Homo sapiens: one gene and its partner. The protein of the gene in region 1 purifies or fractionates together with the protein of each later gene. This does not show direct contact. Each region holds a gene or a part of one and is shown on either strand. Other genes may lie near its edges. The genes, in order: USP3 and WDTC1.

The links.
Region 2: the proteins of USP3 (region 1) and WDTC1 purify together in Homo sapiens (affinity purification with mass spectrometry; 2 studies listed by BioGRID and IntAct, with this or other methods). This does not show direct contact.

Annotation. Positions count from the first base shown.
Region 1 is NC_000015.10:63,591,345-63,595,198, forward strand, and holds the end of USP3 (ubiquitin carboxyl-terminal hydrolase 3), read left to right. Parts: 3' UTR 1-3,289; downstream 3,290-3,854. UniProt on the Homo sapiens protein: Deubiquitinase that plays a role in several cellular processes including transcriptional regulation, cell cycle progression or innate immunity.
Region 2 is NC_000001.11:27,300,479-27,304,391, forward strand, and holds part of WDTC1 (WD and tetratricopeptide repeats protein 1), read left to right. Parts: intron 1-747; coding exon 748-983; intron 984-1,460; coding exon of another isoform or gene 1,461-1,747; exon of another isoform or gene 1,748-2,021; intron 2,022-3,142; coding exon 3,143-3,317; intron 3,318-3,913. UniProt on the Homo sapiens protein: May function as a substrate receptor for CUL4-DDB1 E3 ubiquitin-protein ligase complex.

The DNA of each region.
Region 1 (3,854 bases):
ATAACAAAGGGCATCATTAAGTAGACCAGGTAATTACTGCTTGTCTCTCAAGGCTGCTGTCTTTATCAGCACTAACTAAATAAATTTGTTGGTTCAGTTGTACTTGTCCTGCAAATACAAGAATTACTCTCTTTGTTGGTTTTTTTGGTTTTGGGGCATACTTGTTTGCGGGGAGGTAAGATGGGAGTAAAGACCAAATACATGTAATGTTTAAAAAAAATGCTGTGACTCACTGACATGGTATAGGTGTTACCAGTGAGGTAAAGCCATGGCGTCTGCCTCCTTTTGAATCAGTATCTCATTCCCCCTTAGTTGTACCACTGGAAGTCACGACATGTCCATTATAGACTTACTTACTGCTTGTGTTTGGCATCTGAGTCTGAGGTGTGACCCTCTGGGATTTACTTGGATCATCACCCGCACTTCAGTTTATCACTGGGGGGTGTGCTTCCACAGGAGGAAATTTAGAATCTTCGCTGCTCTGGGTTTTAACACCTCTCTCTGGCCTATCCTGATTGATAGGACAAGTTGAAAATACTGTTGGAGTAAGTAAGTGGAGTTTTCGTTTTGTTTTTTGGGGGTTTTTGGAGACAAGAGTCTCTCTCTGTTGCCCAGGCTGGAGTGCAGTGGCACGATCTCAGCTCATTGCAACCTCGGCCTCCCGAGTAGCAATTCTCCTGCCTCAACCTCCTGAGTAGCTGGGATTACAGGTGCCCACCACTACACCTGGCTAATTTTTTTTTTGTATTTTTAGTAAAGACGGGGGTTTACCATGTTGGCTAGGGTGGTCTCAACCTCCCTCCTGACCTCAGGTGATCCGCCTGCCTCAGCCTCCCAAAGTGCTGAGATTACAGGCGTGAGCCATCACGCCCAGACAGTTTTGTTTTTAAAAAACAGATTTAACTCAAAGATTCAAATTTGGAACCAGAATCCCATTTAAAGAAAGCAGTTGTGGTTTCTACAAGTGTTCTAAGACAGTCCTGTGGTGGTTTTTTTTTTTTCTTTTTTTTGGTTGGGGGCGGTGGGGGTTGGTAGACATAGCCTACCAATTCTCCACAAGGGACAAAATGTATCTTGTGTTAAGCCAACGAGACTTTCTGGCAATTTTTTTTTTTTTTTTTTAATGGAGTCTTACTCTGTCCCTCAGGCTGGAGTGCAGTGTGGCATGATCACAGCTCACTGTAGCCTCAACCTCCCAGGCTCAAGCGATCCTCCCACTTCAGCCTCGAAGTAGCTGGCACCACCACACCCAGCTAATTTTTAATATTTTTACTAGAGATGGGGTTTCACCACGTTGCCCAGGCTGGTCTTGCACTCCTGGGCTCAAGTGATCCACCCACCTTGGCTTCCCAAGGTGCTAGCATTACAGGCATGAGCCACCACGCCCAGCCTGTTCTATTAAAAACATCTTGACCTTTTTTTTTTTTTAAGTTTATGATATAAAAACAGTCTGGTGGCTTTCCCTCAGGTTGGATATCTGAAGTTGTGGGAGCAGATGTAGCTCCATTTCCATTTTAATATTAACTGGATAAATCCCACATCTTCCCAGAACACATCTGCTAAACACTTTAACATGACAAGGAGCAAATTACAATTATGTGTAAACTTATATCATCCAGTACAATGGCCCCTAGCCACATGTGACTGAAATTTAAATTAGAAACTCAGTGCCTTCAGTCACACTAGCCACATTTCAAGTGCTCAGCACCCACATACGGCGTAGGACAATGCTGGTCTAAATTTTCACTCCAAAGAATAAAACTTTGCCATCATGTTTAGGTCTTACAACTTTGAGTCCTAAAAGATAATAGGGAGATGTGTGCTTAAATTAATTTACAATGCTAAATTATATTAGGTTAAACTGTATGAAACCCTGCTATTTGATGAGTTCTGATCTACAAAAATGACAGCTCCACCTGATCTGATGTATCACACATTAACATCACATCTAATTCAACCTGAAATGTGAGTCTCCTTTGATCTTGCAAAGTATCTCCTATGAATCCGGGCTCTTTTGCTTAGAAGGTAGACAGCTGTAACCTCTAACATTGATACTTCGATCTTCAGTCTCTCTGAATGGGCAGCTGTTAAACAGTAAAGGCCTGGGCAGAGTTGATGGTGAAAAAAAGCTGTATTTTTATACCAAATGGAACTTCAGCAACACGTTGGACTACTTTGTCGGGCAGAGTGGTCTTCAGACAGGTGATGCTGTTGGCTTAAGAGATGAACACGTCTTCTCTCTGAATTTGTTTTTATTGGTTGGTTTTACTTGAACAGAAACGTTTGAATGGTGTGAAGATTCTTTAGAAAAGTGATTGGATCCATCTCAATTGTGCACTTGAACAGCAGTGATGTAAATGTGCTTATTTGTGTTTTCATTTTTAACTGTGCAGCCTTACCACACCTATTTTGAAAGCTGATCTTTTGTCCTCTTCAGGGCTTTTCCCTTGTGCCATGTTGTCTCCAGCAATATATGTGGCTTCTGGCTCAGAGCTTCTGCTGAGGCAGGGCCTCGCGCTGAGTCACATGGCTCCTTGGAACAAGAAAACTTTCTCAGAAGTCCCCACACGGGTGGGTGACAGAAACAGTTTGTGGCAACACAAATCTCTCTCCATGGTGGAGAAACCTTTGCTTATCCACTGTATTCTACTCAGTGTATAGTGATGACAGATGTACTAGAATTAAACCAGTCAAGTGTACTGGCCCGGGGTGAGTGTTAAATGTGTATCTCGCCTGTGGAACCTACTCAGCAGCTTGGTTTCTGGGGTTGGGGGCATATTTATTTCTTAAAGCCAAACCTCTCCTTCATTGGTTTAGTGTACATAAGTCTATTTAGATACACTTATCCCACTTTAATCTCCACCAGCCCCTAAACTCTCTCCTGTACCCTCTGTTGCTGAAGTGGCCTCTTCACCTGGGCCCTGGAAAAGCCGATGGAAAAAGTCTGTTCCTGCAGCCAAGGCCTGGGTCCCAGGTGACTAGGAGTAGCCATAGGAAGGTGAGGAAGGAGAAGTGGGCATGTGGTGTCATCTGTAGTCCAAGGTCTCTGCGTCTCGTCAGTGGGTGCAGTGCCTTCCCCCTCAGGTGTGAGCGTGATGGACTCTAGACTGCCTTCCATGAGTGTTGGTCATGCTATGATGTCATCATTTGCCATTAAAACCCAGTTTGTATGATGCCAAGAGGATTAATTGTGCAAGTGACTGATTCATTTAAATTGTAATCACATCCCTTTTCTGCTTCACCAACCTGAACTGTTTTTAAAAATATCATTAAAAGTCTGTTCTCTTTCCTTTTGACTTATTTCTGAACACCTTTTTTCAGTAGAGCCACATAAATGATGATGTACTTACTCAACTCGTGGGCCTCCTCAGTCAACAGGTAGCAAGCTCTTACAGAATCCCCACGATTTGGAGCTGCAGTACCTGGGCCAGGATGAAGTGACCTGTATGGGCAAAGTGATGGCCTGGAGATGAGTGCCTGCAGTCAGGTGCCTGAGGTCCCACTCGGCCTTGCCCAGTGAAATCACCCTCAGTCTCTTGTGACTATTGATCTTATAAAAATGAGGCCCCTTCCCTTCCCCTTTAGAGCTAGACTCTACCCTGAGGCACTAGTTTTGGGGCTCTGAGCAAAGGATACTGGTCATCTTTTAAGGTAAAACAGGCAAATAAGTGCTTTTAAATAAACATCCTGTTTACAGTAAGTTCCTATAGACTACTTCCCTGCCCCCATGCCTCCTGCAGACAGAACCCTGTTTCCACAGTCATCCTTTGCCTGTTCTTGTCAGTCTTCTAAAATTGAAGACACAGGTGCCTGCAGCTCAAATTGTTATGCATCCTTGTTCCGTAGGGCACATT
Region 2 (3,913 bases), on another chromosome or scaffold:
TTTCACTTCCTCTTTCCCCGCTTCCCCATCAAAAGCACTCCCACTTCCCTTCATCCATGCTTCAGGAGGTTGGAGAAGTGAGTGGGGACGATTTGGAGCTCCTGGTGTGCACAACCCCCCTTACCATCAGCTTCCAGAGAGCTGACTCTGCCAGACTGTCAGGCCCCATCCTCCAGCCCCAGGAGGTAGAGGCCACAGCTGCTGTGGATCAGTCAGCCAGGACAGGGGGGGGTCTGGCTGAGGGCTTGCTGCCTGCTGGTCAGACCCTGCGTCCCCAGCCTGACACTTCTGGCTTCCCCAGACCACAGAACTGTCCTTGAGGGCCCCCTGCCTTGGATGTGGCTTTGAAGGCCAGCCGGGGGTGATTTGAGAAGGTGGATGGGGGAAGAGAGAAGGAGGGCTTGGGGAGCCTGTGGTGGGCAAGATGCCAGGCCTTCTGCTGCAGAGCTGCGGGTGCCTGGGGTGAGCCAGTGTGCAGTTGCACTCTGTGCCCAGCAGAGGGCAGCCTGACACCAGCTTTTGCCACCCTCAAGACCTCAGGGTTTCCTGGCTTGCTCCTTAACCATACTCTGTCTCCTGATGGGGGAGGCCTGGGCTGAGCCAGGATTCTCTTCGTCCTCAAGTCCCCTTGCCATGAGATCTGTCAGTGGTGGGCTGGGGTGGCCACAGGAAGCAGAGGAGACTGAATGGGGACCCCTTGCTTGCCACGTGGCTCCACCTCCAAGCCGCTCTTCCCTGCCTTCCCAGGGATGGTGACCACTATGATGCCCTGAGGGACTGCCTCAAGGCCATCTCCCTAAACCCATGCCACCTGAAGGCACACTTTCGCCTGGCCCGCTGCCTCTTTGAGCTCAAGTATGTGGCTGAAGCCCTGGAGTGCCTGGACGACTTCAAAGGGAAATTTCCGGAGCAGGCCCACAGCAGCGCTTGTGATGCATTGGGCCGCGACATCACAGCTGCCCTCTTCTCTAAAAATGATGGTGGTGAGTGGGCACTGAGGAGGGGGTGCTGTTACTCTTTCTCTTTGAGATGCTGCATGACATTCTGGAGAGGTCATGGTTCTGGGATTGGAGAGGCCTGGGTTCAGATGTTGATTCAGAAACCATGCAACTTTGGGGCAGTTACTTGGTGTCTCTCTCAGAGTGTTTCCTGGTCTGAAAAGGAGGCATGCCAGCACCTCCCACTGAGCGTTTCTATTGAGGATCAGCATGTTTAAATGGCATGTTTAAAGCACCTGGGGGAGTGCCTGGTGCCCAGGATAGGAGGAAGCTGAGCTCAGTCAGGCTCCCGCTAGGCATTCACACCTGCTTAGACAGGGCCCTGGTGGTTCCACTTGGGCATCTGAGAGGCAGAAGCTGGTCATTGTGTTTGTTCCGAGTGTACAAGTGCAGCAGAGACAATAGCGCAGAGCAGTAGAAATGCCTCAGGCTTGGAATGTGGGGCCTCGGTTCCAAATGCAGCTCCACCACCTGACTGTGTGGCCTTGAAGAAAGCACAGCCTCTCTACCTACCTGCACAAAGAGCACGAAGCCCTGCCCAGCTCCCCTCAGTGTGCTGGAGAATGAACTGGGCCATCGGAGTGTGGTCTGTAAACGTGAACGGTGAGCTCATAGGAGGCAGACATGGATCTTCACCTCTCTCCTTTGCAGTTTACCAACCACGTGATAAATTAATTTGTTTAATGAATAGTTATCAGACACCTGCCATGTGCCAGGCACTGTGCTGGGTCCTGGGAATAGAGCTGTGACTAAGTCACGTGGAATTTCTGTGTTTATGGCATTTACAGTCTAGTGAAGGAACCAAGTGATAAAGGAGAAACAAAAAAGTATGACAAGTGCCATGGGGACCTGAATGGTGTGCATGCTGGGAGGGGGTGGGCTTGATGGCATTCTGGGGTTCTTCAGGAAGAAACATTTAAACTAAGATCTAAAGGATCCAAAGGAAGCATTAACTAGATACAAAATATAGCTGTGTGGCCTAGCGCGGTGGCTCACGCTTATAATCCCAGCACTTTGGGAGGCTGATGTGGGAAAATAGCTTGAGCCCAGGAGTTCAATATCAGCTAGGACAACATAGCAAGATCCCATCTCAACAAAAGAAAAATTAAAAAAAATTAGCCAGGGGTGGTGGCACACACCTGTAGTCCCAGCTCCTCGGGCAGCTGAGGCAGGAGGATCACTTGAGCCCAGGAGGTCAAGGCTACAGTGAGCCATGATCACACCACTGCACTCCAGCCTGGGTGACAGAGCAAAATCCTGTCTCAAACAACAACAACAACAAAATGTAGCTGTGGGAGATGCAGAGCTCCTGGCATATGAACCAGCATGCTCCAAGGCCCTGAAGCAGGTATGAGTGAGTCACTTTTAAGGAACTGAGAAAACTTGTGTGACTTTACCTGTCACTTAACTGATCAGTGACTCTCATTTGGGACCCTAATAACTTGTCTTCCAGAGGGTAAGGGCATGGTCCTTACTGCCCTAAGTGCCATGAATCTGTTTATAAAAGTCACCCAGGCTGGGCTCGGTGGCTCATGCCTGTAATCCCAGCACTTTGGGAGGCCAAGGCAGGTGGATCACCTGAGGTCAGGAGTTTGAGACCAGCCTGGCCAATGTGGCGAAACCCCGTCTCTACTAAAAATACAAAAATTAGCTGGGCGTGGTGGCACGTGCCTGGTAGTCCCAGTTACTCAGGAGGCTGAGGCAGGAGAATCGCTTGAACCTTGGAGGTGGAGGTTGCAGTGAGCCGAGATCACGCCACTGCACTCCAGCCTGCGTGACCATCTCAAAAAAAAAAAAAAAAGTCATCCATTCTCTCTTTGCTAGTGCCTCACTCTACCCTCCCCTGCCTCTTACCTCCACAGAAACAGACTTTGAGTCTCTGCATCTTTGGGGCTTTCAGGCCCTCATTTAGGGACCTGAACCAGGGCCCTCCTGGCATCAAAGGTCTCCTCTTGAACATCCTCAGGGGCTAGATCCAAAGATGCATCTTCCTCACAACCTTTCCCCAGTTTTCCAGGATAAGGGTGGAGGCAGGTAGCTCTATGTTGTCAGACTTTGGACTGAAAACAGAGCCATAGGTGGGGGAAAATAGGGAAGGAGAGAAAGGAACAAGGCGCTTACCTTTTCTGGATCTCTGCCCCCAGAGGAGAAGAAGGGACCTGGTGGCGGCGCCCCAGTCCGCCTCCGCAGCACGAGCCGCAAGGACTCCATCTCAGAGGATGAAATGGTGCTGCGGGAGCGAAGCTACGACTATCAGTTCCGCTACTGCGGCCACTGCAACACCACCACGGATATCAAAGAGGCCAATTTCTTTGGCAGGTCCGAGGCCCTGAAGAGGAGGGTGCAGCCCAGTTGGCAGCGGGAGGTTGAGTGGGGAGTGTTGGGGCATAATGGTTTCAGAGAAGAATCTCAAATCCCTGCTCTGCCTCTGTACCCTTGGGCAAATGGCTTCACCTTTGTCAGCCTCTAAAGTTTTTTAATCTATGAAATGACCAACCTGCCATGCCCATTTATGAGGCCATAACAAGGACTAATAAGATAACCCAAGTAGAGCCTCCAGCGCAGTGCCTGAACTACTCCTTCATCCCCCACCTCCTTCTCCCTCTGTCTGCATGTGCCAGAGCTTGGTTTCTTTATCTGCATTCAAGGAACCTCCCTCTGCTTGAGAGTATGAGGCAGCAGCCCTCCAAGGCTGGGAATCTTGGCACATCTGTTTTGTGCTCAAAACTGTGCCCTGTGTACTAAGGGACAAACTCTGTGTTTCAGACACCATCATCCCCACCCCTCATTTGTAGATGTACTTTCTTTGGGTAGGTGAGACACATGAACATGAATCAAGAATCTCTCCATAGGCCAGGCACAGTGGCTCATGCCCGTAATCCCAGCACTTGGGGAGGCTGAAGCAGGAGGATCGC